Regions from separate parts of the Homo sapiens genome. Here region 1 is linked to region 2. The links come from fine-mapping of genetic effects on gene expression. A gene starts in region 2. The other region holds a variant in brackets. All regions are shown on one strand. Distances are between the middles of the regions. Region 1 overlaps FAM227B (family with sequence similarity 227 member B). Region 2 holds the start of DTWD1 (DTW motif tRNA-uridine aminocarboxypropyltransferase 1).

The links. PIP is the estimated chance that this variant, and not a neighbour inherited with it, causes the effect.
Region 1: its variant is the best candidate, but not a certain one, in a credible set for the expression of DTWD1 in whole blood (INTERVAL, PIP 0.57).

Annotation. Positions count from the first base shown.
Region 1 is chr15:49,506,519-49,511,518 of GRCh38, reverse strand. It overlaps FAM227B (family with sequence similarity 227 member B), which reads left to right. Exons shown (of 16, transcript NM_152647.3): 11 at 3,171-3,308. Among named protein-coding and RNA genes, the nearest start is that of FGF7, 86 kb to the right of the region's middle. The variant A/G (reference allele first, on the strand shown) is at 2,927.
Region 2 is chr15:49,618,651-49,624,190 of GRCh38, reverse strand. It overlaps DTWD1 (DTW motif tRNA-uridine aminocarboxypropyltransferase 1), which reads right to left and starts at 3,143. Exons shown (of 5, transcript NM_001144955.2): 1 at 3,069-3,143. FAM227B (family with sequence similarity 227 member B) reads left to right here and starts at 3,373. Exons shown (of 16, transcript NM_152647.3): 1 at 3,373-3,491. RefSeq lists an enhancer at 2,912-3,031.

The sequences.
Region 1 (5,000 bases), 110 kb after region 2:
TATCTATATAACAAACCTGCACATCCACACATGTTCCCTGGAACTTAAAAGTTAATGAAAAAATAAAATAAGAAATATGTGCCTACTAACTCAATCTTCAAAGAAGATATCATAATGGAAATTAGAGAAATGGAAACTAGTTTTGAACAAGTTGACAAGAATAAATACTATGTCTCAAAATATATAAGATGATAGCTAAGGTTCTTGGAAGGTAATTTATGGCCTTTAATGTGTATTTTCAAAAAAGAATAAAGACTGAAGACCACAGTGATCTGTTTAAGCATCCATCTCAAATGGGAAGAAACTAACCCTTCAGAAGCCTTTTTGTTTTTGACATCTCAATTCTCTATATTATATTCAAAAAGAGAAAACAGAGAGAAAGCAAAGAAATAATCAAAGAATTACTTCAAAAAGTTTTCCATGCTTGAAAAACTTGAGTTTCTAGTTTGAAAGAGGTTATCTAGTGCTTAGGACAATGGATAAAAATTGCTGTATGCCACAGTAAATTGTGAGTCCTCAGAACCCAGAGAACAAAAAGAAAATGCTAAAAAAAAAAAACTTCCAGAGAACAGAAAGATTAAGAAACAGAATTGTATCATCCCTCTTAACAGCAGCTTTGAAAGATGGAAGAGAATGGAACAATGTCTTACAAATTCTAAGGGAAAATTATTTATAACCTAGGACCCTAGACCCAACCAATTTGTCAAGTAAGTGTAAAGATGAACTGAAGGCATTGTTAACTTATATACATCTTTTCTCATCAAGTTATTGGAGAAAAAAAACCACCAAAATAAGGCGTAAATTAATGAAGAGGTTAAGATGAGAGTCAAGAAATGGAGGCTTTAACACATGAGACATGTAAATTGAATCTCCAAAATACTGGTGAAGGGAGCTCCCTAAATGATAACTGCACAGGCCTAATGAAAAAATTTGTTCAGATTCGAGCACATTGGCAGGCTTTGGGAGAGATGTCTCCAAGAATATTAAACTGAAAGCATCTCTAATGCATCTGAATGTATTCAAAGGCAATTTAGACAATAGTGGGGGGAGCAGTTTGGAGCTAAGTTAATTATAAGTACATAGAACATAAGAAAACAAAAACATCCAACAATTATTAACTTCAGATAAAAAAATTTTCTTAAGAAAATAAGTATAGCAGATTCATTTTTAAAGTCTCAATTGTCCACATTATTCTCTATATTCAAAAAGAGAAAACTGGTTCAGCTGTCAACAAGATTTTACATAGTTACAATAATGTAAATGCTGATATTCACACAATGAAAATTATAACAGTTGATATTATGTAAAGAATAGAAAGTTAGCTTGTATGTGGTGATAATGGGATAGGATGGTGAAAGATCGTTAAATCTTTATCTTCCCTAGTTGGACGTCAATAGAATGCCTAAAATTAATACATCAAAATGTAACAATATAGCCCTTTTTTGTGTGTGCTATGGTTATGGGTCCCAGATAAAGATAGTTGTTTCTGGGAAGCAAGATATGGTCTTGGGGATGTGTGAGGAACTATGGGACTTTGGAAATTAAACAAATAGTTTCACATATAATTTCACTCTTTAAATTGTATGTCTGTATAAATTTTATAAAATGAAAAATGAAAATTAGAATATATGTAAGTTACCAAATAATTGCAAAGACATTTTAGGTTTTTAGCTCCTTTATTTTATGGGCCATTTGTTTCTAAATCCTGTAGGATAACAATTTCCTAGGAAATACTTGAATAGATCCTACTAGAGTTTAGTTTTTTAAAACTGGCAATGTGAAAAGATAAATTTCGAGTGTTGTGGCTCTATATTAATGTCATTCTTTGGAACAATTCATGTTTTGTGACCAATTTGAATTAAAACTTGTAAATAATGTTGGAATGTAGTCAGATATCAACCAGTGGCTAATTTGCAAAAAAAAAAAAAAAAAGTAACAGTGAAAGTAACTTATATTAAGTGCTTACTAGGGATCAGGCACCATGTTAAATAATTTCACGTCTGCCTTGATGGCAGACAGGGACTAGATTGAAATGACTTTTGCGCCCCTTGTGTCAAGCACATAGTTTGGTACATAGTAATCCCTCTCTCTCTTTATATATCAGGACCAAGTAGGGTTTATGCAATACTGGACAGTATTAACCATGTATTTTATTTTCTATATTCTGATACTTTGACATCTGGGACCTTGATGACCCTAGAAGGACTGCACTTCCTAGGGTTAGTTAATTCCTAGAGGCAACTTGCCCATGAGCATGTTTTTTAAATGCTTTTTGATTTTTAAACAAACCAACCAATTCAGAGGTCACACACAACCATTTCCTTTATTTGGCTGTTACACTCTGGGTCACTATCCACCTGCCCAAATCATCCCAGGACTAGGTACCAGATAGGGGTAGCTCCTATGCACTAAAGCCTACTGAAATTATTTAAACTAGTCAATCATAGGCCTTCTTGCCTTGCCTCTTCCTTCCTAAGGAAAGCACAATAAAGACTCTCCCCCACAGTTCTCCCCTCTTTCTCTGCCTCCTGACTGGCCCCAGGGCTTGCCCATGTGGCCCCCTGTGGCATGACATCCCCCTACTCTTGGGAACTGTGAGTAATAAACCATCTTTATAAACGCAATCTGCTGATCTGTTGGCCTTACTATACTTCAATTTTTCTATTAATGCACAATATTTTAAAACATAGGCAATCTATCTAGAAGCACTCAAGTGAATCAAACTGAAGTCTGCTAAATAAGTGATAACTGTATCTAAAAACATTTAGAAAATTACAATTTGATGGCTCAGTCTAGTGAATAACCCTCATTGAACACTCACCGCTGAGAAAATATTGGCTACATTTATGAGCATGTTATAGTCATAATTATTGTTAACATATAATATTAATAATAATATTAGTTCATATTTGTGTCATACTTTCCC[A/G]TTTACCAACACTGTAACATATATTTCAAAATAATTTATGTTATTCTCATTTTTATTGCTGAGGATACAGATGTTTAGAGTGGTTAGATGACTTATCTAATCCTACGCAGCTTAAAAGGAACAAAAAAGGAACTTTTTTGTTGTGAGGATGAAATGTATAATTATCATAAAAATGCTTTGACAAATTAAAAGGTATTTTCAAAATCCAAATTTATTTGGCTAAATATGTATTTTATATTAACAGGTTTAAAACCTCAAAAAGGCTTTTGGATCCACTGGAAACTGAAAGAACTCTCCACAACCACCATTCATGGTAGCAAAAAAGCACCTGCAAAATCAGTAAAGGAAAGAATTGCAGACAGTCAAGAACATATATCAACTAGTAAGTAAAGTTTCTGTATACTGCCAAATGGAATAGGTAGCAAAAATCAATTAATTTATTTATTAGGCAGAATTTTCTAATGATTTATGTTTTTGGTGAGGGCCTTAAAATAACATTTGATTTATAGATTGATGTTATAGTGGTACACACTTAAGTCCTTTTTCCATTTGCCTGTTACAAAATAATGATTTTTTAAAATGTTTATCCTTTTTGTCTTTATGTATACTACATATATTCTCACTTTTACTTGTATTGCTAACTGGTTAATATGTATTGTCTCTATAGATAAATTTACATTTTTTATTTTGTTCATTTAAATTATGTTTTCTTTAGGGTTTCAGTTTTGTGGTGTGTTTGTGAAGACTTAACTAAGATTATAAAAATACCTACCTGTATTTTTCTAGTATTTTTAAATTTCCATATAAATTTAACTCTTTGTTATAAACAGCATAGTTGTATTCCAATATGATGGGTTTTTTTTTTCCAAATGATCCGTTTATTAAATAGTCCACTTAGAGCCTACTTGAAATACCAATTCATTTACATTTTAATATTCTTTTCTGTTCCTTTGAGCCACGTCCAAATTCTTGTGCCAGGACCAAAGTCCTCAGTTACTCTACATTAATAAGCTTTGTAAGGCGAGTTTATTTCTCTCCTGTTTATGCTATTTCTTTAATACCAAACATAAGTCTAATGCTCAGGTCTCGTGTCTGACTGGTTAAATCAGAATCTAGGCTTAGTAATGTTTAAAGTTCCTCAGTGCCTCAGATGATTTCATGTGCAGGCAATGTTACAAACCACTAATGCAGAGGGAAATACCTTTCTAACCTATACCTTGATATAGGCCAAGGAAGAGGAGGAATTAACCTACCCAGCCTACTCTTTGGGAAGTTATTCTTTAGTTAATCTGATTCTAGAATTATTTAATTAGTTAATTATTCTTCTTCAGATCTGAGAATTTTGAATTTAGAGCATCACTATTTTAACTGTGGTTTTCTATATTCTTATCGCAGTATATATCATCCAATATGATTTCTATCTTTTATTAGTTACAGGAAATTTTCTTGTTTGCTGTCATCCTCAGTGTTTTACCAAAACTTCGTATATATTGTTATGGGGGGTGGGGGGCTATTTCTAGGGATTTCTGATAGAAAGAGTAATAGTCTACTATCTTGAGCCAATTTTGTTTATCTGTTTTGACTTCTCACCCTCACATATGAATAACTAAATTGAGAGTATTTTGTGAACTTTCCATTTTCTTTTTAAGTAACAGAAAAGTGGTAAGAATAGCATTAACAACTCCCATATATCCTTTACCTACCAATTATTTATATTTTGCTTGTTCTTTAAATCATTCTCTTTCTTCTTTTTTCACATAAGCAATTAAAGATTAAATTTCCCTAAGCACTGCTTTAAGTGTGTTGTATTTAGATATGTTGTATTTTATCACTTAATTAAAAATTTTCTAACATTTACTGTAATTCCTACTTTGACCCATTAGTAGGTCAAAGTAGGGTTATTTAGAAAAGTATTGTTTAATTTCCAAATGTTTGGGACCTTTCTAGATATCTTAAAATTACTGATGTCTAATTAAAAAAAAACTACTGTGGTCTGAGGGCATACTCTGTATGATCTTTTGCAACGTGTTGAGACTTGTTTTATGGTTCAGAATGTGGTCTGTCTTGGTGAACA
Region 2 (5,540 bases):
GAAACATTTTGTGGTCTCCCAAACAGAAAGTGAACAAAAAGTCCAGAGAAACATAAAATACAACATAATTTGCTGAGAAGAAGTTAGTGGCACTAATTTAATTACTCATCAAATGAATTTTTCTTTTTCTTTTTTTTTTTAAGATTGTAAGTCCCAGTGAGTTTGAGATACAAATAAAGAGATACAAAAACGCCGGTTATAGTAGAAAAAGGCACTTGCCAAATGTACCCAAGGGGAAAAACAAAATACAGTAAATATTTTTGCTGTGTACTGATTACGCACAGATTTGCATTTTGGGTAAGAAAGCAGTATTTAAGAACAATGGTCCAATCCCTTGTTCCTGCCTCACAAATAGAAAATCTTACCTACTTCTGACTGCCACTCCAACTCACCTGCCTAAAAATGGCTTTGATCTTTGTGATCATGCCCTCAATGACTGAAAGTGCAGGATATTAAGATGCCCTCTTTTCTTGAGCCTCAGATTCTTTTAGGAATCACATGAAAATATTAAACCGCATCCCTAGAAAATGCATATACAGACACAATATTTTGCACACAATTTCAGGAGGTTTGGAGATCTCCTAGAGTCCATCTACGACCCAGGTAAGGAAGTTCCAAGCTTGGGAAGGGCCACGCATGGTGGCTCATGCCTATAATACTAGCATTTGGGAGGTTAAGGTGGGAGGATTACTTGAGCACAAGAGTTTGAGAACAGTCTGGACAACAAAGTGAGATCCCATCTCTAAAACAGAGAAAAAAAAAAAGCTTGGGAAGAGATCCTAATAGTCCCCAGAAATGAGAGTTGCAAATGCTCTGTTGGCGTCTCTTTGCTGCACATACGAAGCTAAGTTTCACCTAAACTCTCTTTGGGTTTGTCCTGGTGTTGCCTGAGGTTCTTACAGAGAAACATTTTGAGGCTTTAATAGTCCTGAGTTATTCAGATGATGGGATTCATCCTAAAAAATGAAATTTGATTGGAGTAGCTCAACCTGACTTCATTTCCCTGGGTAATGGAGTAGCTATTTAGTGGGAATGCATGTACCACTCAAAGGCCCAGGCATAGTGGGACTGAAAAATGTAGTTCCTGTGGATGTCATGAAAGTTACTGTGGTTGCCTGACATTTAACAGAAAACTACTGGTGAGTTTTTGGAGTTATCCTAGGGCACTGAAAGTGCATTCCTCCTAGAGATACCTCAGAAATATCACTTTGCAGTTCATGGACCTGCTATCCACATAACTAAATGGATATTAGTGAAGCTTTATATAAATAACCTTCCTCTAGAAAAATCAACCACCACAAATACCTGTAAGACAGTAAAAGAGAAATGTTTATGGCTCCACCTCTTAGTTCACCTATATACTCTCACTTATGGCTGAGGTGGCCACGTAGAAGAGGCCAGCAATTGTAAATCATGGGCAGCTCCCTCCAGTGGTCTCTGAAACTACATGATCAGGGCATCTGTCCTAACCGAGCCAACAGCCTGCCTCGACTGTGAGAAAATCATTGCAAATGATTTTATTGCAAATGGGGTTATTTAAAATTTTTAAAACATACTTGTTAACATCAAATATGTGCAAGGAAGTACAATTTGAGTCATGGGGGCTAAAAAGACTTAGAAAACATAAAGACTGTTCCTAAGGAACTAACAATTTTAACACCTTGATGGTGCGTCCATCATTCTGGAACTTAAGGCTAAAAATACATTAATTTTTTATTCCTCCTTCTACCCAATTTCCACCCCAAATTAATTATACTCACCAAGTTGCATCTACCTTGTATATAATCCTCTATCTTCACTCTCAAAGTCAGGATTCTAATTCAGTTCCTTATTAACTCATAGATGGGCCACAGCAATGTCTTAAACCTCTTTGAGTACTTATTATTAGTTCCACATATTTGACATGGAAAAATGCATTTATTGTGGAGGTACTTTAGTGAATCTATCCCCTCCAGCATTCAACTCTGTAAGAGCAGATTCCTTCCCTGATCTCACCTATTCCTGATTCTTATGCAACAGCAGGAACTCAACAAACACTTGTTAACTAAATCAAAACCATTCTGCAAAACACATCCAGTAAGCATCTCACTACTGAAGTATCTGACAAACTACCTTTATGGGCCGTCTGCAGCCTAGCACAAGTGGCAGGCTGGCAATTTTTTTTTCTCCAAAATAATAACAAAAAGCTTCTACCTCTTCCATTATTGTAAGCTGACTCACCTCCCAATGGAACACTATACAGACTCCCCTGTCCTATATTGTGGACCAATTCAGTATTAGAAAAAAACCACTTCCAATTTTCTTTAGAGTGTTTTTAAGAACTTGGTCACATAGGACCTACAGGTCCAACATTCATTTTTCATAATCCAAGGTAGTAGTACCCTTTTTCATATAGGATCAATGGCCTCTCCCACACCACCCGCCATATGGTAACAAACTGTCTTGCCTTCGTTTTCATGGTGCACTGGGTTAGTCCTTACATGCTGCGATCTACAGTATTGATTTTACCATCCAACTTTGTGGGCCTGGCGACTGAAAATGTTAATATACTTCCTTATTTGTCCTACATTCCCAATAAATAATTTAGACGTAAGAAACAGGCTCTTTTGCTTATTATGTAACCACAACCTCAATATTTTAAATACACTGCATGGCATCACTAATTCTACGTCTGTACTACGCTTCCCCTTCCGTGATAACCAAACCCCCACAAACCACTCCAAATACTAAAAATAAAATAAAATAAAGTATGGGGTTCCTAGGGAACTGACTTTGCCAGGACATACTTTTCGTTGGGGCGGAATGCACCGAAAATCATTGGTAGGAAAAATAATTTTTTTTTTGAGGAAAAATTTGGAAACCTTTTTCCCAAAGGGCCCGCAAGATCCTAAAAAAAGCAAGAGACCGCGCAGAAACCGAGGATCCCCCTCACAGGCGACACCCAGCGCGACCTCCGCTAGGGTCCTGACAAAGAATGTCCACTTCCCGCGGCCGCACCTCTGGGGCCAGACCACTGGTCTCCAGAGAGGCGCGGGGACCTCCACCAGGGATCGGAGTGGTACTCAGACCTGCACACCCGCGAGTCCTCGAACAGCTCCACACGTCTCCAGCTCCGCCCGAGCCCGAGCCACGCGCCGGGCCGTGATCGCGCACGGACCAGACGGAGCGCTTTCCGGGAGACACCAGAGGGAGGAGCCAGGCAGTTACTAGCGTCGTTGCTAAGGCAGGGGCCGCGCACACCGCACACCGCGCGGCTTAAGCAACAGGCTGGGACGACAGCGGGGGGGGGGTTAGACGGGAAGTTCCGCCTCAGCCTCTCAATCAGCGGCGGTGTCGCACTTCTCCCGAGAGGCTCCGGCGAGGGGCAGGGCCGCGTTCGTCCGGGACCCGCCTCAAGCCTCGCAGCCTTTCACCCAGTTTCCTCCCGATTCTTGCTGGGACAACAAAATTGGGAAGCGGTTCTCGAAACATACTGTCAAGGCGTAGTTGCAGTGAGTTGTGAAGAAATGTTGATCCCAGAGAAAAGTTTGCATTTTGCCCACCTCAAAGATATTTTGATTGTGAGAACTTGGTTACATTAGTCTTTCGTGGCTATATCAATATCATTATTTCGTGTGCTGTGTGGTAATGAAAGCTATTAGAAAAATCATTTGTATCTTAATGATTTAGTTTGCATAAAAACACGCATATAGAGTTAAGAGTACTTTGTGTTTTTCCACTTTGAAGTATAATATGTGGATAAGTTATTAGAACATTTGTCCGTGCCTCTCCCCAAACAATGCGCAAACGGAAGTGCACTCTAACAACTAAGATTTTAAAACACAATGGTCAAATGTTGAGCAATGTTTTATTGACTACTCTGAATTTATCAAGTGGTAGATAAAGGACATTACAATGCCCTAGAAGTGCTCACGATATCAAGTAAAGCATGTTAAATTCAAGTACAGAAAATGCAATATTCTTACTACTGAGATAAAAAATGGAATTTAATAAATTACAGGAATTTCAAGAAAGCTGAGAATGGAGTGGTCAATAAAGGCTTCTTTTTCGGACTTGGGTAAGGCCTTGAAGAATGATTTAGGTTTAGGACAGTGTTTTTCAACTGGAAAGGGGATTGTGTGGGACCCATTAGTGGAGGTCTTGACCCATTTGTAAGCAAGGAAATCTCTTTAAACTTAAAAAAAAGAAACAATATAGATTGGAAATATCAGCGCATGTAAGTAAATTTAGTGTTAGTTAGTAAAGTACTGCTTTATGGAGCTTTTAATTGTATATATGCGTGTATGTGTGCACTAGGGCTTGTTTGTAAAATGTATTTCTTACTGTATTTCAAACCTTAAAAAGTTTGAAAGCCAGTGATTTAGGGAGAAAGGTGAATTTTCTGGGTAGGGAAAGTAGAATAGCAAAGTCTATAAGCCAAGAAGAATTCACAACCATTTTCCTTTTTAGTTTAACTCTAAATTTTATCAAAGTAGTTAAATTGCACAGATTAAAAAGCAAATAATACTACTTGTTAGATTGAGCATTGGGTTGCTATCGTATGTAATAAATTACTCCAAAATATGGTGGCTTAAAACAACCATTTTATTATGTTCACAGGTGGTGTTGTCAATAGGGCATAGTCATCAGCTTTTCTTTGGTAACTCAATTAGAAAGACTAGAGTGGGCATGCTAGCAGAGCTTCTGTAACTATATGGCCGGGGTTTCCTCACAGTATGGCAGCAAGGTAGTCAGACTTCTTAGCTTAAACTCAGAGCTCCAAAGGGAGTGTTGCAATGAACAAGGCAAAAATTGCCTGACCTTTTCTGACCTTGCCTCAAAAAGTAACGCGGTGCTACTTCCCCCACTTTCTTTTGCTTACAAATGTGTCAAAGTCCTGTTCCATTTTAGGAAAGGAGACATAGATCCCTCTTCTCAAAGGATTGGCAAAGATTTCTTGTCCATGTTTTAAAACCAGCATAGTGAATTTACTTCTGTAACAGAAAACCCCAAAATATCGGTGGTTTAATACACTTTTTTTTTTCCTCACAAAAGATCCATTGTGGCTATTTCTAGGCAGACGAAATGTTAAATTCAAGGCCAGATGTTTTTATTTTTAATGGTTCTGCTGCCTTCTAGGACTAGCTTGTTTGACAAGAAAGAAAGTATGGCAAATTACCCAAGGTTAACTCTAAAAATGACATGTATCAATTTGGCCACATTCTGTTGGCCAGAATTTAGTCCCAAGGCCCCCACTTTAACTGCCGGGGATCCTGAGAAATGTAGAGAAACACACACATATTGGTGAGCACTAACAGTTTGCCACATTCTAGGTTAAAGAAAACCCTGTAGTACCCAACCCTTCTACTCTATTCTCAATTCTTCTCACCAAAGGAAAATTCAAGTCTTTTAAATATTTCATCTGTTACCCCCATGTCTAAATATACTTACATTGCAGTTTCTTGATTTTCCAATTTCAGACATTACCCACTGACTTTCTCCTGTGGAAGGCAGTGATAAAGGTCTTTTGTAACAACACCACCTCCAAGTGTGTGAACATT